Regions from separate parts of the Homo sapiens genome. Here regions 1, 2, 4 and 5 are each linked to region 3. Evidence: fine-mapped expression QTL. A gene starts in region 3. Each other region holds a variant in brackets. All regions are shown on one strand. Distances are between the middles of the regions.

Region 1 (5,101 bases), 170 kb after region 3:
TCTGAGATGCTGCAAAATCTGAACCTTGTAAGCACTGACATGACACTCAAAGGAAGTGCTCATTGGAGCATTTTGGATTTTGGATATGGAAAGCGCCATCAGGCAAGTATAATACAAAGAGTCCAAAATCCAAAATCTGAAACACTTCTAGTCCCGAGCATTTTGGATAAGGGACACTCGACCTCTCCTGGTAAGTGGTGATGTTTGGACCTGTGGTGGAGGGGTGTGTATGTCAGGATGGGCCTGGGTATGCTGCAGTAACAACCCCAAGTTCTCAGCGGCTTAGCCAAATAAAAATGTGTTACTTATGCTACATGTTAAGGTTACAAGGCAGTTGAATGTATAAGTAGAATATGTGAGTATAGAGTTCACAGAGATGTCCAGCCTGGGAATATAAGTTTGGCATCATGGCTGAGCGCGGTGGCTCACGCCTGTACTCCCAGCATTTTGGGAGACCGAGGCGGGCAGATCACGAGGTCAGGAGTTCAAGACCAGCTTGGCCAACATGGTGAAACCCTGTCTCTACTAAAAATACAAAAATTAGCCGGATGTGGTGGTGCGCACCTGTATTCCCAGCTACTCGGGAGGCTGAGGCAGGAGAATGACTTGAACCTGGGAGGCAGAGGTTGCAGTGAGCCAAGATCATGCCGTTGCGCTCCAGCCTGGGCAATAGAGTGAGACTCTGTCTCAAAAAAACAAAAAAAAAGTTTGGCATCATTAGCACATTTATTATATTTAAAGCTCTCTTAGAGACAGGTGCAGTGGCTCACACCTGTAATCCCTGCACTTTGGGAGGCTGAGGTTGGTGGATCGCTTGAGCCCAGGAGTTTGAGACCAGGCTGGGCAACATGGCAAGATGCTGTCTCTACAAAAAACAAAAATTAGCCAGGCATAGTGGCCCATGCCTGTAGTCACAGCTACTTGGGAGGCTGGGGTGGAAGGATCACCTGAGCCTGGGGATGTTGAGGATGCAGTGAGCTGTGATGGGGCCACTGCCCTCCAGCCTGGGTGACAGAGTGAGACCCTGAATTTTGGAGGGACACAAGCATTCAAACCATGGCAAAACTCATAAAACTGGATGAGATTACCATGAGGGAAAACGTGGATGTAGAGAGTGCAGCACTATTCACAAGAGCAAAGACATGGAATCAACCTAAATGCTGGCCAGCCCGGTGGCTCAGGCCTGTAATCCCAGCACTTTTGGAGGACGAGGCAGGCAGATCACCTGAGGTCAGGAGTTCGAGACCAGCCTGGCCAACATGGTGAAATCCCATCTCTACTAAAAATACAATTAGCTGGGTGTACTGGCAGTTGCCTGTAATCCCAGGTAGTTGGGAGGCTGAGACAGGAGAATCACTTGAATCCGGGAGGTGGAGGTTGCAGTGAGCCAAGATCATGCCACCACTGCAGTCTAGTCTGGGCTACAGAGTGAGACTCCATCTCAAACAAACAAACAAAAACCTAAATGCCCATCAGTGACAGATTGGATAAAGAAAATGTGGTACAGCCGGGCACAGTGGCTTACGCCTGTAATCCCAGCACTTTGGGCGGCTGAGGCGGGTGGAACACCTGGGGTCAGAAGTACAAGACCAGCCTGGCCAACATGGTGAAACCCCATCTCTACTAAAAATACAAAAATTAGCTGGGCGTGATGGTGTGTGCCTGTAATCCCAGCTACTTGAGAGGCTGAGGCAGGAGAATCGCTTGAGTCCAGGAGGTGGAGGTTGCAGTGAGCCGAGATTGCGCCATTGCACCCCAGCCTGGGCGACAGAGCGAGACTCAGTCTCAAAAAAAAAAAAAAAAAAAAAAAAAGCTGTGGTACATATACACCATGGAATACTATGCAGCTATAAAAAAATGAGAGCATGTCTTTTGTGGGAACATGGATGGAGCTGGAGGCGATCATCCTTAGCAAACTAACACAGGAACAGAAAACCAAATACCACATGTTCTCACTTACATGTGGGAGCTAAATGATGAGAGCTTATGAACACGAAGAAGAAAATAATACTGGGCTTAATGCCTGGATGATGAGATAATATGTACAACAAACCTGGTGACAGGTGTTTACCTATGTAACAAACCTCACATATCCCCAAACCTAAAGTAAAAGTTTAAAGTTAGGCCGGGTGTGGTGGCTCACACCTGTAATCCCAGCACTTTGGGAGGCCGAGGTGGGTGGATCACCTGAGGTCAGGAGTTCAAGACCAGTCTGGCCAACATGGCAGAAACCTGTTTGTAAACCTCTACTAAAAAAACAAAAATTAGGGCCAGGGCGGTGACTCACACCTGTAATCCCAGCACTTTGGGAGGCCGAGGAGGGCGGATCACCTGAGGTCAGGAGTTCGAGACCAGCTTGACCAACATGGAGACACCCCATCTCTACTAAAAATACAAAAATTAACCAGGTGTGCTGGCAGGCACCTGTAATCCCAGCTACTTGGGAGGCTGCAGCATGAGAATCCCTTGAACCCAGAAGTTGCAGTGAGCCAAGATCATGCCACTGCACTCCAGCCTGGGCGACAGAGGAAGATACTATATCCAAAAAAATAATAAAAGTTTACATTCAATAAATAATTTTTTTTTTTTTTTTTTTTTTTTTTGAGATGGAGTCTCGCTCTGTCGCCCAGGCTGGAGTGCAGTGGCGGGATCTCGGCTCACTGCAAGCTCCGCCTCCTGGGTTCACGCCATTCTCCTGCCTCAGCCTCCCAAGTAGCTGGGACTACAGGCGCCCGCCACTACGCCCGGCTAATTTTTTGTATTTTTAGTAGAGACGGGGTTTCACCGTTTTAGCCGGGATGGTCTCGATCTCCTGACCTCGTGATCCGCCCGCCT[C/T]GGCCTCCCAAAGTGCTGGGATTACAGGCGTGAGCCACCGCGCCCGGCCAAAATAAAATTTTTAAAAGGATATTTACATCAGTGTAGTATGTGAAGTAAACAAGAAAAAGATAAAACTCACTTTTTAAGTAAAAACAGTCATGTGCTTGAAGTATGTTGTAATCTTTATCAGAAAAGTATGGGAAGTTATTATTATTATTATTATTATTATTATTTTTTGAGACAGAGTCTTGCTGTTGCCTAGGCTGGAGTGCAGTGGTACGCTCTCTGCTCACTGCAAGCTCCGCCTCCTAGGTTCTCACCATTCTCCTGCCTCAGCCTCCGGAGTAGCTGGGACTACAGGTGCCCGCCACTAATTTTTTGTATTTTTAGTAGAGTCGGGGTTTCACCATGTTAGCCAGGATGGTCTTGATCTCCTGACCTCGTGATCCGCCCGCCTCAGCCTCCCAAAGTGCAGGGATTACAGGCATGAGCCACCGCGCCCGGCCGGGAAGTTAATTTTTAGTTTTTAAAAGTTCTATGGTATTTATTGAAGTTTATGTATTATGACTATAACAGCAAAAAATGCACATTACATTTCTTTAAAATGCTAGATTGAGTATCATTTAAAAAAAGAGAAGGGATACTTAATACTATCATACTAAGGGGGAAAGAGATTGGAAAGAAGAGGACTCAGTAGAAAACAAAGATGTGAAGTAGGAGGAAGGCCTGCAAGGCAGCCCCAGCTGCTGCTGGGTCTGGTAAAGTGAAGATTGGGGATGAATCAATGGATTTAGCAACACAGGGGACCCCCGTTACCTTGAGAAGTACAGTGCCAGTGGAGGGGTGAGGGAAGATGTCCAAGGGTGTCGGAAGGAATGAGGGACAGGAGTTGCAGGCTGAGATGGACGGCTCTTCTGCAGCATTTTGCTGAAAAGGAGCAGTGAAGGGAGCTGAGGCTGGAAGAGGGGGGAGGTCAGGAGCACATTCGTGGTGCAGGGGACATGGCACTGATGTTCACCCATGGGGACGATGGTGGAAAGGGATGAGGCATTGGCTGCAGAGGAGAGGGGATGACGAGCTGTGTCGGACAGGGCGGTGCACCTTGGCAGTAGCCAATGTGAAGGTTCTAGAAAGGCTAGTAGGTGTGTTGGTGGGAGTTTGGGGAAGTTCTTTTTTTTCTGGGGTGAAAGGGTCCCCCTCTGTCTCCCAGGCTTTAGTGCGGTGGTGCAAATACGGCTCACTGCAGCCTAGACCTCCTGGGGTCAAGCAATTCTCCTGCCTTGGCCTCCCAAAGCATTGGGATTAGAGGCGTATGACACTGTGCCGGGCCAAGAGAGTTTATTCAGATCATCTTTCTTTTGTTACTTTCACTTTCTCATAAATAACTGAAAGAAGTCAATTGGCCCTTTAAACTCTATGTCAGGAAAGTCAGATCACAGCATGCACTTTCTGTCCGCCACGTTCCACAGGCAATGGTCTTGCTGGAAGGTAAATAGTCTACACTTTCTCCAGCCTGCAATAGCAACTTTCTCATGACCCCTCCTGCTGCATGGTTCCAAAGTCAACGCCATATTTAAAAATTTTTGGGGCCAGGCGCAGTGTTTCACACCTGTTATCCCAGCACTTTGGGAGGCTGAGATGGGCAGATCACCTGAGGTCAGGTGTTCGAGACCAGCTTGACCCACATGGAGAAACCCCATCTCTACTAAAAAAAATACAAAATTGTCAGGGCATGGTGGCTCACGCCTGTAATCCCAGCACTTTGGGAGGCCGAGATGGGGGGATCACAAGGTCAAGAGATCGAGACCATCCTGACTGACATGGTAAAACCCCATCTCAACTAAAAATAAAAAAAAAAATTAGCTGGGCGTGGTGGCACATGCCTGCAGTCCCAGCTACTCAGGAGGCTGAGGCAGGAGAATTACTTGAACCCGGGAGGTAGAGGTTGCAGTGAGCTGAGATTGTGCCACTGCTCTCCAGCCTGGGTGACAAGAGCAAGACTATGTCTCAATAAATAAATAAATAAATAAATAAGCCGGGCATGGTGTTGCATGCCTGTAATCCCCGCTACTGGGGAGGCTGAGGCAGGAGAATCGCTTGAACCCGGGAGGCGGAGGTTGCAGTGTTGGCCTGGCGCAGTGGCTCATGCCTGTAATCTCAGCACTTTGGGAGGCTGGGGCAGGTGGATCACAAGGTCAGGAGTTTGAGACCAGCCTGGCCAATATGGTGAAATCCCGTCTCTACTAAAGGTACAAAAATTAGCTGGGCATGGTGGTGGGTGCCT
Region 2 (5,101 bases), 64 kb before region 3:
ACCTGGGGCTACGCCGTACCGCTCCTGCAGACGCAAGACCTGCCTGCTCAGCGCCTTCGGACTCAGCTTCTCCAGGCTCAAGGAGGTCACCTCAGGGTACCGTCTGTGGGGAGAGAGAGGCACAGCCTCTGTTGCTGTTTTAAGTTAATACATTTTAAGATTTTCATTTTCATCATAGTCATATGCATGCATAGTTTAAACCTCAAGTGAGGTTTATAAGAAAATGCAGGCGTCACCGCCCCCCGCCCACCCCATCCTTAGCACTTGGAGGTCGACATTGAAATGGTTGTGTATTTGCCTCCACATTTCCAGATAACATCCTTGGATTGTGATCTCTTGATTGTTGACTTCTGGGTATTTGGTATTGACTTCTCCCCACGGAAGGTGGACTCCCGAAATAACAGTATTAGAGTTTTAGCTAAATCAGCACCTTCCTCACTGGTGATATTCTGGCTGTGCAACGGCCTCAACGGCCCAGCCTTCTGCTGCTGCTTTCAGGGTTAATGCTTATCTGGCTCTGTTGTTTCTCAGTTACCCATCCTGGTCCCTTGATACTTGGCTCCTCCTGCCCCTCCAGCCACTCTCTAGCTCCTGCCCTGCAAGGTCCTGGGACTGACACCCCCATGCCCTGGTCCACACCCTCCGACCTCCAGGTAGTGGTGAAGCACAGCCGCTGGGTGTTTCCCAAGATAAGGTCCACGGGGTATTTTTGGAGATGTGCACCTCCAGGGTCTGTGCCCGCTGCACACCAGCTTGAGAGTTCAGTGGAGCCAAGACTTCTGGGTTGAGATAACGTTCCCTTAGCACAGGCAGGCTTGGCTCCCAGAACTGCTGTTGAGACCCCAGAACCCATTCCTATTCCTGCCCCTCTGATGTGGCCTGCTCTTCTGGAGGTTTTGAGGCTCTTCCATTTTCACTAGTGTTGAGAAACTTCATGACAACGTGCCCCACAGGGGGTCTCTCTCCACCCACCTTTGGCCACTCCACAAACCTGTTAAGTCCGGCTCCTGTGGGGGCTCCCGTGGCCTCACATCTGGAAACCTGTCAGCGATGAATTACTTAGGAGTTTCCTTCCCTGCTCTCCCTTCTTCCTGGAATCCCAGTTATTTGTATGTTGGACCTTCTTGACAGAATCTCCAATTTTAAACATCTTTTCTCTTTGATTTTCCTTCTCTTTATGTATTTTGTACTGCTTTTTGGAAGACAACTTCAAATTATTTCCAAACCTCCCACTGAGCTTTCATTTCCCATCCTGTCCTTCATCCACCAAGTTCTGTCCTACAGTCTGAAAGCTCTTTCTGTGGGGCCCCCATCTCCACTTCACAGACGCAGTATCTTAGTTACAGCATTTGTGCTTTTAAGGTTTCTTTTGCTTCCTCCAAGCTCCAGCTTAGTGTCTGTATTAGGGTTCTCTAGAGGGACAGAACTCATAGGATATATATACATATATATATTATATACAGGATATATATATATGTGTATATATATATAAAGGTGAGTTTATTAAGTATTAACTCACACGATCACAGGGTCCCACAATAGGCCATGTGCAAGCTGAGGAGCACAGAGAGCCAGCCCGAGTCTCAAAGCTGAAGAACTTAGAGTCTGATGTTCGAGGGCAGGAGACGTCCAGCATGGGAGAAAGATGTAGGCTGGGAGGGTAGGCCCATCTAGCCTTCTCATGTTTTTCTGCCTGCTTTATATTCCAGCCTTGCTGGCAGCTGATGAGACGGTGCCCACTGAGATTAAGGGTGCGTCTGCCTCTCCCAGTCCACTCAGTCGGAGGTGAATCTCCTTTGGCAACACCCTCACAGACACACCCAGGATCAATACTTTGCATCTGTCCATCCAATCCAGTTCACACTCAGTGTTAACCATCCCAGTGTGTTAGTGTTAGCATGCGTGTGGCTGGCGAGAGGCCCCACAGCCCTAACTGCTCCTGCCCAACACTGCCCTGCAGAGGAACCACCTCCCTGTGTGCACGGCGTGGCCTGGTAGCCCTGGAAGGCCAGAGGTGCTGTGGGCTGAGAAGCGTCTGTGCACCTCCAGCAAGGGTCTCACCTGTGTCCTCCTGGTTTCAGCACGGAGCCCCAGCCC[T/G]GTCCTCAGCTGTGGCCAGAACACCGTGCCGCTCACAAAGACCCCCTGGAGACCCTGTTTCCAGCCCAGCTTCTTGGAGGAATCTGGGCCTCCACTTCCTGTGCCTCCCGGGGGCTCCGAAGCCAACTGGCTCCTTGCATTTGCAGGTTCAGCACTCTCAGGCCTCCGAGGACAGTCGCTGCCTGGACATCTGTCTTCCGGGTTCCAGCTCCCGTCTCCCCTCTTATTCTCTTGAAATTTTTGTCTTCATTTTAAAGCAAAGAGGCAATAGATGCTTGTGTTTAACTGCCACTTTAAACTGTAACTCCTACTTAAAACTTTTTTAAAATTAAATGTATATATTTGACACAGGATCTCACTCTGTCCCCCAGGCTGGACTGCAGTGGTGTGATCAAGGCTCACTGCAGCCTCAACCTCCTGGCCTCAAGTGACCCTCCCACCTCAGCCCTGAGTAGCAGGACTATAGGCATGCCCCACCACGGCTGGCTAATTTTTGTATTTTTTGTAGAGACGGGGTTTTGTCACGTTGCTCAGGCTGGTTTCAAACTCCTGGCCTTAAGCGATCCTCCCACTGCACCTGGCAAGGCCTACTTTTTTTTTTTGAGGCAGAATCTTGCTCTGTCGCCCAGGCTGGAGTGCAGTGGTGCCATCTCGGCTCACTGCAAGCTCCGCCTCCTGGGTTCATGCCATTCTCCTGCCTCAGCCTCCAGAGTAGCTGGGACTACAGGCGCCCGCCACCACGCCTGGGTAATTTTTTGTATTTTTAGTAGAGATGGGGTTTCACTGTGTTAGCCAGGATGGTTTCACTGTGTTAGCCAGGTTAGTCTCGATCTCCTGACCTCATGATCTGCCTGCCTCGGCCTCCCAAAGTGCTGGGATTACAGGCGTGAGCCACCGTGCCCGGCCAAGGCCTACTTTTTAAGATAAACTATTTACTGAGGTATAAGTGACACACGGTAAGGTATGCCAATCATGGGTGCAAATGCACCGGTAAACCCACTGCCCAAATCTCAACATAGAACGTTCCAGGCCAGGTGCGGTGGCTCACGCCTGTAATCCCATCACCTTGGGAGGCTGAGGCAGGAGGATCGCTCGAGCCGAGGAGGTTGAGTCTGCAGTGAGCTGTGGTTGTGTCACTGCACTCCAGCCTGGGTAACAGAGTGAGACCCTGTCTCTAAAGTAAAATGTAAATAAAGGACATTCCAGCACCCCAAAGTTTCTCCCGTGTCCATCTCTGTGTATCCCCATCCCACACTTCTCTGACTTCTATGGCCAGAGATTATTTGCCCGATTTTGAACTTGATGCAAATGGAATGATAGAATAGGGACACTTTGCCACTTTTGGATCTGGCTTCTTCCATGCAGTCTCTGTCCACGCTGCTGAGTGTGACGAGGTTCAGTCTCTCACAGCTGAGTTTGTGAACCGTGATCACTGCATCCACTGCTGCTCTGGGGACTAGGGCTGCTCCCGTGTTTCACAGATGATGATTAAGCTGCCATGACTGCGATCTTTTGTGGATAATGAGCTCATTTCTCTCGGGCATATGCTAAGTGGACTCGGACAACATATGTCATAGGGTTGGCATACTTTTTTTGCTTTAGTAGAAACTGCTAAATAATTTTCTGAAGTGTCTGCACCAGTGCACATCCCACCAGCAGTGCGTGAGGGTTCTGGTTGCTCCATGTCCTTGTCACCACTTGGTATGTTCGACTTTTAAATTTTAGCCTTCCTGATGGGAGGTGGTGGTATTTCTTTGTGGCTTAATTTGCATTTCCCTGATATTAATGGTGCTTAGCAACTTTTCCTACATTGGCTATCTGGATATCCTCTTTTGTGATGTGCTTATTCAAGGCTTTTGCTCATTTAAAAACTTGGTTTGTTTTGTCTTTTATTGTTTATTTGCTTTGTAGGTTTTTTGCTTAAAAATACTCTGGATACAGTCTTTTGTAAAATATGTACTGTAAATAATCTTCTCTTGGTCTGGAAGTTGCCTTTTCACTCTCTCAATGATTTCCTTTGACGTCCAGAAGGTATTAAGTCAAATTTGTCAATCTTCTTCTGTTATTCTCTTTCTTTCATCCTTCCTTCCTTTTCTTCTTCTTTTTTTTTTTTTTTGAGATGGAGTCTCGCTGTGTCACCCAGGCTGGTGTGCAATGGCACGATATCGGTTTACTGCAATCTCTGCCTCCCAGATTCAAGTGATTCTCCTGCCTCAGCCTCCTAAGTAGCTGGAACTACAGGCATCTGCTACCATGCCCAGCTAATTTTTGTATTTTTAGTAGAGACGAGATTTCACCATGTTTGCTAGGCTGGTCTGGAACTCCTGACCTCAAGTGATCCGCCTGCCTCAACCTCCCAAAGTGCTGGGAATACAGGTGTGAGCCACCGCACCCAGCCTTTATTCTTAGTGATTTTATATCCTATTTGAGAAAGCTTTATTGCAAGTATAAAGAAATACAATTGGCTTTTATAAACTTACCTTGTAACCAGTGATCTTGCTAAATTTACTTATTAATTCTAATAATTTATCTGTAGATTTTTTGGTTTTCCTTCCCTACATATAAAAACATATCTTCTGAGAAAATGACAGTTGTTTCTTTGTACCCGGTCTTTGCACTTATTTTCCTGCCTTCCCGCCTGGCATGGGTCCTTGGTACAGTATTGAATAAAAACAGCAGTTCTCAGACATTAGGCAACAGGTGGCTCAGGGCAGTGATGCCCGAGTGATGGGAAGCGAGGCTGCCAATCGCTCCATCTTCCCTCCTGGAGAAACTTCCAGCAACATGCGAGGGAAGGGGAACCCAGGAGACACTGGGTGCTTCCCTGAGTTCGCAGAGAAGAGATGCCCAGAAAAAGAGCTGTGGAGCTCTGCAGGGAGCGCCCTTGAGAATTCGCCCAAGTAAAGAGCACCCTGCGTGTGAGGAACTCACACAAAGCAGAGGAAGGGCCACCTGAACACATTACAGGGAAAAGTTTTCAAGCCTTACAAAGAGCTGGGAACAG
Region 3 (5,101 bases):
AGTCCCAGCTACTCGGGAGGCTGAGGCTGGTGAATGGCGTGAACCCGGGAGGCGGAGCTGGCAGTGAGCCGAGATTGTACCACTGCACTCCAGCCTGGGCGACAGAGGGAGACTCCGCCTAAAAAAAAAACAAAAAAAACCCCAGCAAATTACATAGAACTGAACTGATAGAGGCCTGAAATGCTTTTTATGATTTTTTGTTGTTATCGAAACCTTGCTGACTCTTTTTATATTTTGTTTTCCAGAGTCAGAAAACCTTTTTCTTTTTGAGCTATTTATAGCTATAGCAATTGAGTGACATATACTTTTGTGAGCAAAACTGAAATATTTGTCTTTTTCTCTACCTGATTTCTCAAAAATCTGGAAGCGATTCATGAGTATTCTTATTTTATGGCAATGTAGTTCTTTGCATGAGTTCAGTAAGAATCTGTTGTCCTTGTAACAGGACACAATTGGAGACCCTGGTTATTCTACCAAGGCTTGGACTGGGATGACGTATTTTTGGATATGACGAGACTGCTTTGAGGAATCGAGGTTCGCTTTATAGAGCCAATAAAAAGCCCCTTGGGATGACTGGACTGGTGCCCTGTTTACATAGTTCCCTTAAAAGGTTCTTGGCCTTGAGGTAAGGAAAGAATGTCACTTTCCGACAGATCCAGGAACTTCAAGATAGTTTGGGACCTGGAGGACAGACATTCACCCCCCCCCCCAAATTCATACAGGTATTATACATACACTGTGATGGGGAGCCACTGGCTTGGCTTCCTAGACATGGGAAGTGTTTGTTTTGTTTAGAGACAGGGTCTCGCTCTGTCACCCAGGCTGGAGTGCAGTGGTGCGATCATAGCTCACTGCAGCCTCAATCTCCTGGACTCAAGCGATCCTCCCATTTCAGCCTCCTGAGTAGCTGGGACTACAGGTGAGCACCACTATGCCCAGGTAATTTTTAAATTTTTTGTGGAGACAGGGACCTCGCTATGTTGCCCAGGTTGGTCTCAAACTCCTGGGCTCAATGAATCCTCCCACCTTGGCCTCCCAAAGTGCTGGGATTACAGGCATGAGCCACCATGCCCAGCCCTCAAGTGGCTTTTAAAGGTCTATTCTGACCCTCTTGTAGTTCATAAGCATGATGATTGCCTCATGTGTAGGGTCTGTCTCCTTCAAACGCTGTTATGACGCCAGCACATTACCTGTCTGATGTGGGGAAAAAAAGTCTGAAATTCCTTATGGCAAAGTTCCAGCCAGTTTAGAAAGGAGCCTATATGGCCAATCACCACTGTTGTACTTTAGGCAAATAATCAGGCCAAATATAATCCTAAAATTTATTTTACAAGTAAATTGGTCTTACCAAGATTTATCTTTGGTAGAAATGGGGAAGTAGAGAAAAATTATGTTTCAGAGAAAAACTACAGCATACCTGTTACTGGATTCTAGCCCTGATCATTGTATTTTTTATTTTCCTACAATCTGGACTAAATCCTGAACAATCTTCTGGCTACAAGTCTCAAAGAAGAACCTGGCTGGGCAGAGGTTCACACCTATAACCCCAGCACTTTGGGAGGCCCAGATGAGAGGATCACTTGGGCTCAGGAGTTCGAGACTAGCCTGGGCAAGGTGTCAAGACCTAGTCTCTACCAAAAAAATTTAAAATTAGCCGGTCCTGGTGGCAAACACCTGTATTCCCAGGTACTCAGGAGGCTAAGACAAGAGGATCATTTAAGCCCAAGAGTTCAAGGCTGCGATGAGTGGGAATCGTGCCTCTGCACTCCAGCATGGGTGACAGAGCAAGACCCCATTTCTAAGTAAACAAATAAATAAAAAGAAAGAAGAACATGGATTTTAGTTTCTTCATGTTTTTAGTTGTCTCCCTAATGGAACAGGTTTGTTTTTTTCATCCTGGCATACAAATTGGTTATAGTCCTATGTGTTACTTCTGAGAAAATTAAAATTAATGGTGTTTCTAAAAACTAGAGATGATTCAACAGGTGACAGCAGTTGTATAAATTAATGACTTCACTGAGACCTCATGTTTGCCACCCTGTAATGCCATTCCAATTCAGTTTGTGGTGTTCTTAAAAAAAAAAAAAAAAAAAAAACTCCCTGAAATGTCTCCTCCTTCCCTGCTTGGCATGGGACAGGACTATGTGGGAATGAGCCTTCCCAGCAAGAGGGGACACTCTGACCCTCAGATTTTGATAATCAATGCTTTCAAGAAGAAAGATTTTGATCAAAAGGGGGGCAAATGAGAAAGAAAAAAATCATTTATCTGAGGAATGTAAAGCCCTTTTAAACTGTGGGCCCAGAAAGCTTGATGTTAAGTGCCAGAAAGCATTTCAAATGAAACCGCAGCCCCTCACTACCCCTCGAGCCAAGTAACTATCCACTGATGACACCAAGCCGTGGTCAATCGCGAACCAATGCCATTTCTACAAGCCAGTGAGCTCCTGGGCAACGTTCGAAACCACCTGCTCTCCGATGGGCTCTGTTTTCTTTAAAAACCTGAGCCTCTGTTTTGTTCTCCGTTGCACCTGGTGACCCAGGCCGCCCTCGACCTCTGTGCCTGAATAAACCCACCGGGCACCACATTCTGACCCTTTTAATTATTTTAGGTTGACAACTAATACAGGACTCAGCGCCGGTGGACAGGAAGCCAGGGCCCCTGCAGGGAGGCGCCCGTCCCTTCTCCCGGGGAGGGCAGGGCGGGCGCGCGCGCGTCCCACCGGGAGCGCCTCCTCCTCGGCGAGGGAGCGAAGGGCCTCCGGGTCCTGTGATGTCCGTGCTCGGAAGGCGCGGAGGAGGGCAGGCCCTGCGGGACAGGGCGGCGGGGTCGCCGGGGTCGGCTCAGCTCCCCGCGGCGTCCGGCTGCTCGGCGGCCTCCGGAGCGGGGCCCTGCGGGAGAACGCACCTTCCCCGCCCCATCGGGGCCTCAGTTTCCCCACCCCGGGAGAGCCGGCGGCCCGCCCCCGGCTCACTCCCAGCTACGGCCCTCACCTCAGGACGCGCACCCGGCCCGGCCCCGCTCTGCCCCCGGCGCCCAGACCGCCCACCTGGCCCGCGCGGCCCGGGGTCGCTCACCTGCGGGGCCGGGACCGCCCCACACCGTCCACGCCCGGCGCGGAACCTTGGCCCGACCGCAGCCGCTGGCCCGGAGGGCTTTATCCGGCGCACCAAGGCCAGCGCGGGCGGGGCGAGGAAGCCGGGCGCACAAAGCTCCCGGCGGAAGTCCGGCCGGGGCGGGGGCCGAATGGGAGGTGGGCGAGGCCTGAGGGTCTGGAGTGGGCGTAGCCGTTTCTGGCGGGGGCGTGGCCTTACCGGGGAGGGGCGGGCGCCTGCCGCCAGGGGGCGCCGCGGGGCAGCGGGGTTGCACCTGGCGCTTGGCGCCCGCACCTCTGCCCGCCTCGGAGACCCCGCAGCCCCGCGCCGCCGCCTGGCCCCGGCCCCGGCCCCTCCGCGGGATCCTGGCCCCTCCTCGAGCGCCGCCACCGGCCGCCATGGCCTCTCTGGGGGACCTGGTGCGCGCCTGGCACCTGGGCGCGCAGGCTGTGGATCGTGGGGACTGGGCCCGCGCCTTGCACCTCTTCTCGGGCGTCCCGGCGCCGCCCGCCAGGCTGTGCTTCAACGCGGGCTGCGTGCACCTGCTGGCCGGGGACCCCGAGGCCGCGCTGCGGGTGAGCGGGGCGTGGGGAGGCCGGTGCGGGCGACGCCTCCGCCTCGAGCCCCTGGGGAGGGCCCAGCGCCCCTCCCCGACCGTCACGGGGTCGCCCTGCCGCCCCCGACCCAGCGAACGCCCCGGCAGGTGGGAGCCGAGCAGGGGGGCCGCACCTGAGCTAAGCGAGGCCGCGCTGGGGGGCGCGGCGGTCACCGGGAGAGGCCGGGGCCCGAGGGTGACTCACACCGGGAAGGGGGAAGCTGCTGGGCTGGGTCAGGCCCGAGGGACCGCCCTGCCCTAAGGGGAAAGCGTTGCGCCTGTGGTCATGGCCGGGAGACCGGGTCAGTCTCCTCCTCAGAGCCCTCAGCCCTCCCCCAGCCCACTCCCCGAAACAGCCAGGAGTCCAGGGTGCCAGGGTGCAGCGGCCGAGGCCCTGCACGGAGCCCGGTGCCCTTCTCGTGCCCCCTCGCGTTCCGGGGCCGCCTGTTCCTGCGCATCCCAAACGCCAGCGCTGCCCACCCCCGCTCAGTCCCAAGCACCCCGCAGAAGCAGGCAGGTGCCCACGGTTACTGAAGGCTCGGTGACAGCAGTGATTTAAAGGAGAGGGAACTGCGCGCTGTGGGAGGGTCTCCACGCCCCTGACTGGCAAAATATCCCCCTTGGAGGAGACTGGGCAAAGCGCATGAGACCCCCCTCTCTTGTGTCTTAAAGCTGCGTACAAATTTACAATCACCTCCATAATGATTTCATTTTTTTGTTTGTTTCAAAGATGGAGTCTCGTTCTGTCACCCAGGCTGAATGGAGTGCCGTGGCCCAATCTTGGCTCACTGCAACCTCTGCCTCCCGGGTTCAAGCAATTCTCCTGCCTCAGCCTCCCTAGTTGCTGGGAGTACAGGCGCCCACTACCACGCCTGGCTAATTTAGTATTTTTAGTAGAAACGGGTTTCACCATGTTGGTCAGGCTGGTCTTGAACTCCTGACCTCAGGTGATCCACCCTCCTCGGCCACCCATAGTGGTGGGATTACACATGTGAGCCACCTTGTCCGGCCCACAATGATTTCATTTTAAAATGTTATCCAAGAAAGGGAATGTAATCTTTAGACACCAGGTGGTTCAGCAACAAATCCTATGTCCGGGGCTAACCCAGTCACTTGTGCTCTTGTGCCTGGTTTCACTACAGAGAGGGGACGCAGTGAAAGTCATACGACTAACCCACAGCATATGCATGTTAGGAATATGGGAACTTAGGAAAGCAGATGGAACAGCTATGATTCATAAAGCCGATCACGTGAGGGGCAGCCCAGGGTGCAGAGGGTGTCGCTGGAACTGCTGTCTCTTGTTAGGAGCCTTGCGTGACGTTTGGGGCAGACAGGTGGGTTCTGCTGGCCCTGAGCCGCCACCCCACATCAGGGCTGCGTGCCTGTGCTCAGCCGCCACACTTCACACCTGTG
Region 4 (5,101 bases), 100 kb before region 3:
CACTGTGGCTGCGGTGGCAGGCCCGGGGTCTGCAGCTGCGTGGAGCTGGGCCTGCGTGGTCCCGGGGCCCGGCCTCCATTGTTTTGCCCGTGCCTACCTCTTTGGCCCTGAGGATGGGCCTCTCTTCACCTCTGGGGTAGGGATGGGGCAGCCAGTGTGTGGGGTGGCCGATCAGTGGTGTTCCCAGCTGCCTGCTCAGGCCAAGCTCCCAGGGTTCAGCTGGGAGCACTGAGGCTGCAGTGCTGCTGGAGTGGGTGGTGGGAACGTGGCCTGAGCCTGCCCAGCCCTAGGAAGAACTTTCTAGAGCACATGGTCATCACGGATGTGTGGCTTGGGGCCCTGGCCCTCCAGGCCCTGAGCACCTCTCGGGACTCCAGAGCCAAGGAGGCGGGTGCGCACATGGGACCCTGGGCTGTGGGCATTGGGCCACCACCCGGCTGAGGCACTTGTGCAAAGCAAGCTCCATTCTCCCACCTGGTGACCTGGAAGGCTGGCTTCAAATGTAGACATCTCAGCTTCTCATAGACCCCTTTCTTGCTCTCCTGGCCCCATCGCACTGGCCCTGAGGGACCCTTGTGCACATGGGGGGCCCTCTCCCAACAGCTCTCTGTCACCTGCCCAAGGGCATCCTGCTAGGGCCCAGCAGGGTCCCCAGCCCCAACAAGGGCCTCCCTCCCACCTGGGCTCCGACCTGAGGCCGCATGTGGCGCATACACGTGGGGCTCTGCATGGACCAGCACCCGCTCCTGCCAGCCCTGCACCAGGGGGTTCAGGTTCTGGTGTGGCTGCCAGCATGTGCTCTGCTCCCAGGCCGGGGCGGGCAGGGGGAACGCTTGGTTCTGTCCTCACCGCACACCACCCAGCATCTGCGGGATGTGCACACAGAGACGCATATGTCTGCAAGGCCCCTGGCCGGGCAGTCCGTGGGGCCAAGGCAGCCCCCCCGCCCCTTCCCCACGTCCTGCCCCCAGACAGAGGGGCTGGCACAGGTGGCAGGTCGCTGCCTGGGGCTGCAGCCAGGGCCCAGGGTACCCTCCAGGCCAAATTCCCCGCCGGCTGTTTGCAGTCTTTCAGATCCAGATGCTCCTTCCCTCACTGCCTTGGTCCTGGACAGCTGGCGCTGCCCTCTCCAGCCTGGACAGTTGCTGGCCCCCCACGGGGGTGCAGCTCTGGCCTTAGCCCCTCCCAGGCCTGCTCTACCTGCAGCCCCCCTGGGCCTGGCGCTCCTGCTTGCCACAGCAGGGGCAGCTTGGGGGTTGCAGGGTGTGGGTGGCAGAGTGGCATCAGCAGCTTGGAGCTGCCAGTAGCCAGCAAAGAGGCAGGGCGGACATGGGTCAGGGCGGCCCCCACTGCTCAGCCCCCGACGCCCCCATCCCATCCACTCAGCCAGGCCAAAGTCTGCCCTTCTGCCTCACACCCTGGACACCCTTCTCCATGCAGGGCTTGGCGGCCCCTCCATGCCTGGCCTGGGTCCTCAGGGGCACTCCCCAGCACCCGGCTGGCCAGGGCTCCAGCAGGGGTTTCCTCCCAGCTACCCAACTTCCTGTTTTCTCAAGAAAATGCAGCAGCCGATTCTGAACAGCTCATTAACATGCCTCCCCAGGCGTCCCGGACATCCTGGGGTCTTTACAGCGCTTGCTGGCCTGAGCACAGACAAAGAGAGGCAGCGGACGCGGTTCCTGCCGCCCCTGGAGCCCAAGGCTGCAGGAGAGGCCCCTGGAGCACACTTCCTTGCCACCTGAGGCAGAGGCCGCGGTCCCCGCAGGGCAGTGGGGTCAGAGGGTCAGACTGCACCCCCAGGCCAGGGGCAGTGGGAGGTCCAGGGGCCTGTGTGTACAGGTGCCTGGCCGGCTGCAGATCCGAGCCGAGCCGGAGCTTTCCCTCTTTCCTTCCTGCTTCAATCCCCGCCAGGCCCAGCCTGAGGCTGTGGGGGCAGAAGGGCGGTAGCAGAAGGCGCAGGCCTGCATCTGTTTCTGCTCAGCCAGGTGGGTGCCCTTGAGGACCATGGGGTGGAGCTGAGCTCAGGGCCCCTCCCTGCCCAGCCCAGGCACCAGCAGGGACCCTGACAGTGGCCTCCATGAGGGGATCTCCCTCCATGAGGGGGTCCCAAAACTTCCCCCAGAATTGGGCTTGGGAGGCTGGGATTACTCACGCCTGTCATCCCAGCACTTTGGGAGGCTGAGGCAGGAAGATCACCTGAGGTCAGGAGTTCAAGACCAGCCTGACCAACATGGTGAAACCCTGTCTCTACTAAAAATACAAAAATTAGCCGCCCGTGGTGGTGGGCACCTGTAATCCCAGCTACTCAGGAGCCTGAGGTGGGAGAATTGCTTGAACCTGGGAGGCGGAGGCTGCAGTGAGCTGAGATTACATCACTACACTCCAGCCTGGGCGATGGAGTGAGACTCCGTCCCACCCCCAAAAAACCCCAGGAAACAAAACTGGGCTTGTTGGAGCAGCCCCGACCTGCTGCTCCAGGCGGAATATTGATGTGGCCCTAACTGCGGAACGTTCTGGAAGCAGCCC[G/A]TACCCTCCACCGGGAACTGCCGAGAGCCAGCACAGCCCACAGTCCCCCTTGCTCCCGTGTCGCCCACGGAGACCCTGGCGCCTTGAGTGGAGGCGCAAAAGGCAGCATCAACTCCCCCCAGACTGGCCATGCCCAGGTGCCAGTTGGTGTGGGGCATAGCAAGCTTGGACAGTGCAGCCCTGGGCAGGTGCCTCAGCCCAGTCCCCCACTGGGGACAGGAGAGGAGGGAGAGAGGTGAGTTGGGCTTTGGTGCCCCCACCAGCCTCCTCTATGGATCTCCACCGAGGTGCGGCAGTTCCCACTCAGGGCTTCTGTTGCCCAGACCTTGTTAGACGTCACCAAGCAGACGCAGGCTGTCCTGCGTGTTGCCTTTGGAAAGTGGGACCCACCCAGCCTGAAGGGACTTCCACAATTTCCCTCGATTCCTTCTAGAAGCCCCATGGGAGCCAGAGGGAATTCCCCAAATCCAAGCCAATGCCTGATTGGAGCTGTCCCCGTGGCCATGCCAGCCTGCACTAGGGATGCTCTGCCGACGCCTCACCCTGGACCAGGGATTCTCTGCCGACACCTCACCCCGGACCCACAAGGGATTCTCTGCCAACATCTCACCCCAGACCCACGAGGGATGCTCTGCCGACACCTCACCCCGGACCCACGAGGGATGCTCTGCCGACACCTCACCCCGGACCACGAGGGATGCTCTGCCGACACCTCACCCCGGACCACGAGGGATGCTCTGCCGACACCTCAACCCGGACCACGAGGGATGCTCTGCCGACACCTCACCCCGGACCACGAGGGATGCTCTGCCGACACCTCACCCCGGACCACGAGGGATGCTCTGCCGACACCTCACCCCGGACCCCCGAGGGATTTTCTGCCGACACCCCACCCCGGACCCCCAAGAGATTCTCTGCCGACACCCCACCCCAGACCCACGAGGGATGCTCTGCCGACACCCCACCGCGGACCCCCGAGGGATTCTCTGCCGACACCCCACCCCGGACCCACGAGGGATGCTCTGCCGACACCCCACCCCGGACCCACGAGGGATGCTCTGCCGACACCCCACCCCGGACCCACGAGGGATGCTCTGCCGACACCCCACCCCGGACCCACGAGGGATGCTCTGCCGACACCCCACCCCGGACCCACGAGGGATGCTCTGCCGACACCCCACCCCGGACCCACGAGGGGTGATCTGCCGACACCCCACCCCGGACCCACGAGGGGTGATCTGCCGACACCCCACCCCGGACCCACGAGGGGTGATCTGCCGACACCCCACCCCGGACCCACGAGGGGTGATCTGCCGACACCCCACCCCGGACCCACGAGGGATGATCTGCCGACACCCCACCCCGGACCCACGAGGGGTGATCTGCCGACACCCCACCCCGGACCCACGAGGGGTGATCTGCCGACACCCCACCCCGGGCCCACGAGGGATGCTCTGCCGACACCCCACCCCGGACCCACGAGGGATGATCTGCCGACACCCCACCCCGGACCCACGAGGGGTGATCTGCCGACACCCCACCCCGGACCCACGAGGGATGCTCTGCCGACACCCCACCCCGGACCCACGAGGGATGCTCTGCCGACACCCCACCCCGGACCCACGAGGGATGCTCTGCCGACACCCCACCCCGGACCCACGAGGGATGATCTGCCGACACCCCACCCCGGACCCACGAGGGATGATCTGCCGACACCTCACCCCGGACCCACGAGGGATGATCTGCCGACACCTCACCCCGGACCCACGAGGGATGCTCTGCCGACACCTCACCCTGGACCACGAGGGATGCTCTGCCGACACCCCACCCCAGACCCACCACTGTCTAGGGTGGGGCCCACCTCCCTGGACACCCCCGTAGCTCCAGATCTTGTGCCAGCCCCAGGTAGGACGGGGTGCGCAGGACCCACCTGGCAGCGGCTGAAGATGTCTGCGTGGGTGACACGCACGTTGAAATGCTTGAGCACAGCCTTGGCCTGCTGCTGGGCCTTCAGGGAGCAGTCGACCGAGAGGCAGCGCCCAGCCCCGACCTGGGCCCGGAGCTGCAAAGACACGGCTCGGCTACTGAGGGGCAGTGCAGAGCCCAGCACCTGCCCAGGCCCAGCCCGCCTCCGCCAGCATGGGGCAGGAGCCTTCTCTCGGCCCACCAGGGGTACGGCAGAGGCGCTGGGGGTCGGCCCCACGGCAAGCTGACCCTGAGGTGGGGGTGGCCGAGGGGCTGGGGGCTTGGGAAGATGGGGCTCAGGCCCACTGAGCTTATCTTTGGGACACTCACCTTGTGGAATGGCTGCCCCGACGTCAGAATGATCCTCCCCTCCTGCCTGGCAACCTGTGTGGGAGGTGCGACCAGCACATAAAGGGGGCAGCTCCGTGCTCCTGGACTGGGCCACCTCTGCTCGCCACCCCCTAGCTCCCCGGATCGTGGCCCTGCCCCAGGCCCCTTTTGTCCTCCAGGGTGGCCTCTGCCTGGGGTCTTGGGTGGTGAGGAGCCCTCTGCCGGGTCCTGGGTGTCGCCTCATTGTATAGATTTAATCTTGGCACCACGCAAACATTTT
Region 5 (5,101 bases), 380 kb after region 3:
GGTGTCTGAGGAGGGAGGGCTGACACTTCCTCTCAGAGCTTGAGAACGGCGTGGGCACGGGCCCTTGCCATTCATTGTTGGCACGGGGAGGTCTGCATTTGGAACCCCTCGCTGCATGTAAGCAGACCCCACCTCCCACCTAGAAACAGGGACCACTGGCTGTGGGCACCCGCTGCCTCCCTGCAGGCACGCAGGCCTCTCTGGAGTGACTGGTCCTGAGCTGCAGTGCCTCCTCCGTGGGCTGCAGGGCTTCCATGACTGTATCCAGGGGGTTTCTACCTCATTCCACCGGAGTTCTTTCCCACTGCGGGTTAGGATGACGGCACCATGAAGAGAGGAGCCCTGAGCCGGCAGAAGGAAGAGAAGAGGGAAGCAGAGGAGCCCTGAGCTGGTGGAAGGCTGTGGCGGGTACCTTGGAGGAAGAGAGGAGGGAAGCAAAGGCAGAGAACAAGGCAGAGGCCACCCCCAGGTGGGGCCACCTCACCCACCGCCCCCGGAGACTGCGTGGCGGGGAAGGCGGCCCTAGTGTGGCTGGTCGGCCTGCATGCCTGGGCAGTTTGCAGCCTGTCCAGGTGTCAGAGCTGTTAGCTCTCTGATGCTGGTGGCTGTTCCCCCAGAATGGAAGCATTGATTAAATTTCAAGTTTGTTATTTATACAATGAAACACTTCATTAATTTAACCACTTTATTGCTGTATAATAGGTAGGCTGCATATATTCAAAGTACACACTTGGGTGAATTTTCACCCAGAAGCCATTGTTGCTGTCGGAAGAGTGAGCCCAGTCCTCCCTCATGCCCTGATGATCTTCAGGTGATCCTCCGCGCTTCACAGCCATGCCCAGCCCACCCCTGCCACCCATTGCTGGGCTTTCTGTTGTCTGCGTGTCTCGGTTTTATAGAAAAGGGCTCTCACCATGGGCAGCTTTCCCTCGCGTCCTTAAGCCGAGATCCCCATTTTCGTTGCCTGAAGTGCCCATTGTGTGAATGTGTCTGTTTACCCTTCACCTATCAGTGGACATTAGGTTGTTTCTGATTTTTGGTGGTTACTAAGAGAGATGCTGTGAATACTCATGCCTTCATTTTTCTTGATTAAACCCCTGGGAGTAGAATGGTTAGAACATATGACAGGTGTCTAGGCTTAACATTTTCAGAGACTGCCAGTAGCCAGGCATGGTGACACACACCTGTGGTCCCAGGTACTCGGGAGGCTAAGGTGGGAAGATCGCTTGAGCCCAGGAGGTCAAGGCTGCAGTAAGCTGAGATCGCACCACTGCACCCCAGCCTGTCTCAAAAATTAAAAAAAAAAAAAAAAACCTGCCAAACTGCTTTCCAAGTGATTGTACCATCTCTAGTGTATGAGAGTGCATTCATCCGTTCTCACACTGCTATCAGGGTTCTACCTAAGACTGTAATTTATAAACAAAAGAGGTTTAATTGACTCACCCTTCAGCGTGGCTGGGGGGTCCTCGGGAAACTTAACAATCATGGCAGAAGGTGAAGGAGAAGCAAAGCACGTCTTACATGGTGGCAGGAGAGATTGAGGAGCATTGTACCACACTTTAAAACCAGCTCTTGTGAGAACTCACTCACATGAGAACAGCATGGGAGACCCACCCCCATAATCCAATCAGGTCCCTCCCTTGACACATGGGGATTACAATTCAAGACAAGATTTGGGTGGGGACACAGAGCCAACCCATATCAGACAGTCCTGGTTCCTCCGCATCCTTCCCAACACTTAGCATGGTCAGTCTTTAACTTTTATCCATTTTAATAGGTGTGTAGTGATATCTTGTGGTTTTAGTTTTCAGTTCATTTCATTTCTCTAATGACAGTTGATGTTAAGCATCTTTTTATGGGCTCATTTACGATCCATATATCTTTTTTAATGAAGTGTCTGTTCAAATATTTTTCTTGCTTATTATTGGGTATTCTGGAGTTTTAAGAGTTCATGTTCTGGATATAAGTCCTTTATCAGATATATGGTTTACAGATCTGTCTTTGGAAGTGCAGAATTTTAAAAGTTTTTATAAAGTTTGGTTTATCAACGTTTTTCTTTATTTTTAACTGGATCCTGTTTTTGGCGTTCTGTTTAAGAAATCACTGCCTAATCTGAGAACCCAAAGATATTCTCCCACATTTTCTTATACGAGTTTTATGGTTTGGGGGTTTACATTTAGGTCTGTGTTTTATTATAGTTGACTTTTGTATGTGGTGTGAGGTATGGATTGAACTTTTTTTTTTTGGCTTATGGATGCCTAGTTCAGTGCCATTTGTTGAGAAAACCATTCTTTCTACATAGAATTGACTCTGTACCATTGCCAAAAGCCAGTTGTCTGCATTTGTGAGTCAGTTACCCATGTGTTATTCCACATGTGTCAGTCATTTGCATGTCTGTCAGTCATCCATGTATGAGTCCGTCCATGTGTGTCAGTCATCTGCATGTGTGTCCACATGTGTCAGTTGTCCATGTGTGAGTCAGTCATCTGCATGTCTGTCAGTCGTCCACATGTGTCAGTCCACATGTCTGTCAGTCGTCCACATGTGAGAGTCTGCATGTGTGAGTCAGTCATCTGCATGTGTGTGTCTCTCATCCGCATGTGTGAGTCCATCATCTGCATGTGTCATTCGTCCACGTGTGAGTCGTCCACGTGTGAGTCATCTGCATGTCTGTCAGTCGTCCATGTGTCAGTCCACATGTGTGTCAGTTGTCTACATGTAAGGGTCAGTCATCTGCATGTATGAGTCAGTCATCTGCATGTCTGTGAGTCTGTCGTCCACATGTATGAGTTGGTCATCCATGTCAGTTGTCTGCGTATGTATCAGTCATCCGCATGTGTGAGCCAGTC[G/A]TCCACATGTCAGAGTCAGTTGTCCACATGTGTGTAAAGTCAGTCGTCCAGATGTGTGTGTCAGCTCCAGGGCCCTCTCTTTTGATGCATTGATCTGCATATCTGCCTTTAGGCAAGTACTGTCCTTTCTTGACTGATGTAGCTTTACAGTAGGTCTTGCAAAATCATTTTTCTCCTCCCAAACTTGATACTGCTATTCTCCTATATTTTACACATATATATGTTCTGAACACCATAATAGCCATGTAGTTATTCTGTTTAAACAGTCAGTGGTCTTTTTTTTTTTTTTTAAGATGGAGTCTTGCTCCGTCGCCCAGGCTGGAATGCAGTGGCATGATCTTGGCTCACTGTAACCTCCGCCTCCCGGGTTCGAGCTATTCTCATGCCTCAGCCTCCTGAGTAGCTGGGATTACAGGCACGAGCCACCACGCCTGGCTAATTTTTGTATTTTTAGTAGAGACGGGGTTTCACCATCTTGGTCAGGCTGGTCTCAAACTCCTGACCTCGTGATCCACTCACCTTGGCCTCCCATAGTGCTGGGATTACAGGTGTGAGCGACTGTGCCCGGCCTGGTTTTTTCTTTTTTTTTTTGGAGACAGTCTCACCCTGTCACCCAGGCTGGAGTGCAGTGGTGCGATAGCTCACTGCAACCTCCACCTCCCTGGTTCAAGCGATTCTCCTGCCTCAGCCTCCCAAGTAGCTGGGATTACAGGCACATGGCACCACGCCTGGCTAATTTTTGTATTTTTATTAGGGATGGGGGTTTCACCATGTTGGCTAGGCTGGTTTCAAACTCCCAACCTCAGGTGATCTGCCCGCTTTGGCCTCCCACAGTGCTGGGATTGCAGAAATGAGCCACCACGCCCAGCCGAGTGGTCTGTTTGAAAGACTGCAGAAGAGCTCTGCAGTTGCTCCTGCCATCCCCATCCCTGTCCCTGCCACGCTTCTCCACCTTGGTGGGCTCATGCTCCTGATGTTGCTTCCCTTCCGCTGGCCTCACTCCCTTTACCTTTTCTGTGGTGTTGGTCTGCTTGTGATGAGCTCTTGCAGCTTTTTTTTTTTGAAATGGAGTTTTGCTCTTTCACCCAGGCTGGAGTGCAGTGGTGCTATCTTGGCTCACTGCAACCGCCTTCTTCCAGGTTTCAGGCGATTCTCCTGCCTCAGCCTCCTGAGTACCTGGGATTATAGGCGCTGGCCACCACGCCCGGGAAATTTTTGTGTTTTTAGTAGAGATGGGTTTCACCATGTTGGCCAGGCTGGTCTCAAACTCCTGACCTCATGATCCGCCCGCCTCGGACTCCCAAAGTGCTGGGATTACAGGCGTAAGCCCCTGTGCCCAGCCCTCTTACAGCTCTTTAATGCCTGGAAAGTCCTTATTTTGCTTTCATCTTTGAAAGATATTCTTAGAATTCTGGATGCGTAGTTATTTCTTCCAATGCTTTAAATGGCGGTTTCCCTGGGTCCTCACCTGCAGTGTTTGCAGTGAGAAATCCAGTGCCACCACACAGTTATTTCTCTGTGTATAATGTGTCTTTTTTATATGGCTGCTTTTAAAATGTTTTTTCTGTATCTCTTGGTTTTAGCAATTGGATTTTCCTCTAAGCCTTAGTTTGTCTGTAAAGCAATTTGATTACTGAAGTGCTTTGGTGTTATTTTGTGTGTGTGCACGTAGGGTTCATTGAGCTTCTTGGATCTGTGGATTTAGGGTTTTTGACAAATTTGGAAATTTTTCAGTCATTATTTCTTCAAATAATGTTTTCTGCCCACCACGCTTTCCAGTATTCCAGCTGTGTATGTAGGAGTTCTCAGAGTGGTTCCACAGCTCACTGGTGCTCTTTTCAATTTTTAAATTATTATTTTTTCCCTCTGTGTTTCAGTTGAGCAGGTTTTTGTTGGTTTGTCTTCTAGTCCACTCATCTTTTCTTCTGCACGTGATGCTGTTGAGCTCATCCGGTCTGTGTGCTTACATTCTAGGCATTGTCGTTTTCAGCTCTAAAAGTTCTGTTGGAGTCTTTCAAACATTTCCTAACATGTTTCTACTTAACTTTCGAACCTATAGAATACAGTTATACCAATGGCTTTATTTACTTATTTATTTATTTATTTATTTATTTATTTATTTATTTGTTTATTTTAAGGCAGAGTTTCACTCTTTTGCCCAGGCTGGAGTGCAGTGGTGCAATCTTGGCCCATTGTAACCTCCGCCTCCCAGGTTCAAGCCATTCTCCTGCCTCAGCCTCCCGAGTAACTGG

Evidence for each region. PIP is the estimated chance that this variant, and not a neighbour inherited with it, causes the effect. A credible set is the group of variants that fine-mapping cannot tell apart.
Region 1: its variant is the best candidate, but not a certain one, in a credible set for the expression of EXD3 in CD4 T cells (BLUEPRINT, PIP 0.89).
Region 2: its variant is the best candidate, but not a certain one, in a credible set for the expression of EXD3 in whole blood (TOPMed, PIP 0.71).
Region 4: its variant is the best candidate, but not a certain one, in a credible set for the expression of EXD3 in cerebellum (GTEx, PIP 0.59).
Region 5: its variant is the best candidate, but not a certain one, in a credible set for the expression of EXD3 in whole blood (INTERVAL, PIP 0.73).

Annotation. Positions count from the first base shown.
Region 1 is chr9:137,594,908-137,600,008 of GRCh38, forward strand. The region is part of intron 1 of LOC124902318 (a long non-coding RNA gene); the gene reads right to left. Among named protein-coding and RNA genes, the nearest start is that of ZMYND19, 6.9 kb to the left of the region's middle. The variant C/T (reference allele first, on the strand shown) is at 2,836.
Region 2 is chr9:137,356,266-137,361,366 of GRCh38, forward strand. EXD3 (exonuclease 3'-5' domain containing 3) reads right to left here. Exons shown (of 22, transcript NM_017820.5): 8 at 3-103. Among named protein-coding and RNA genes, the nearest start is that of NRARP, 57 kb to the left of the region's middle. The variant T/G (reference allele first, on the strand shown) is at 2,098.
Region 3 is chr9:137,420,039-137,425,139 of GRCh38, forward strand. EXD3 (exonuclease 3'-5' domain containing 3) reads right to left here and starts at 3,124. Exons shown (of 22, transcript NM_017820.5): 1 at 3,076-3,124. NOXA1 (NADPH oxidase activator 1) reads left to right here and starts at 3,355. Exons shown (of 14, transcript NM_001256067.2): 1 at 3,355-3,668. The coding sequence starts at 3,492. It also overlaps the pseudogene LOC124902354. RefSeq lists silencers at 2,716-2,855, 2,866-3,005, 3,026-3,585.
Region 4 is chr9:137,319,269-137,324,369 of GRCh38, forward strand. EXD3 (exonuclease 3'-5' domain containing 3) reads right to left here. Exons shown (of 22, transcript NM_017820.5): 18 at 4,822-4,875; 19 at 4,457-4,588. Among named protein-coding and RNA genes, the nearest start is that of NRARP, 20 kb to the left of the region's middle. RefSeq lists enhancers at 1-418, 1,053-1,687, 1,688-2,321. The variant G/A (reference allele first, on the strand shown) is at 2,527.
Region 5 is chr9:137,802,542-137,807,642 of GRCh38, forward strand. The region is part of intron 18 of EHMT1 (euchromatic histone lysine methyltransferase 1); the gene reads left to right. Among named protein-coding and RNA genes, the nearest start is that of MIR602, 33 kb to the right of the region's middle. The variant G/A (reference allele first, on the strand shown) is at 2,850.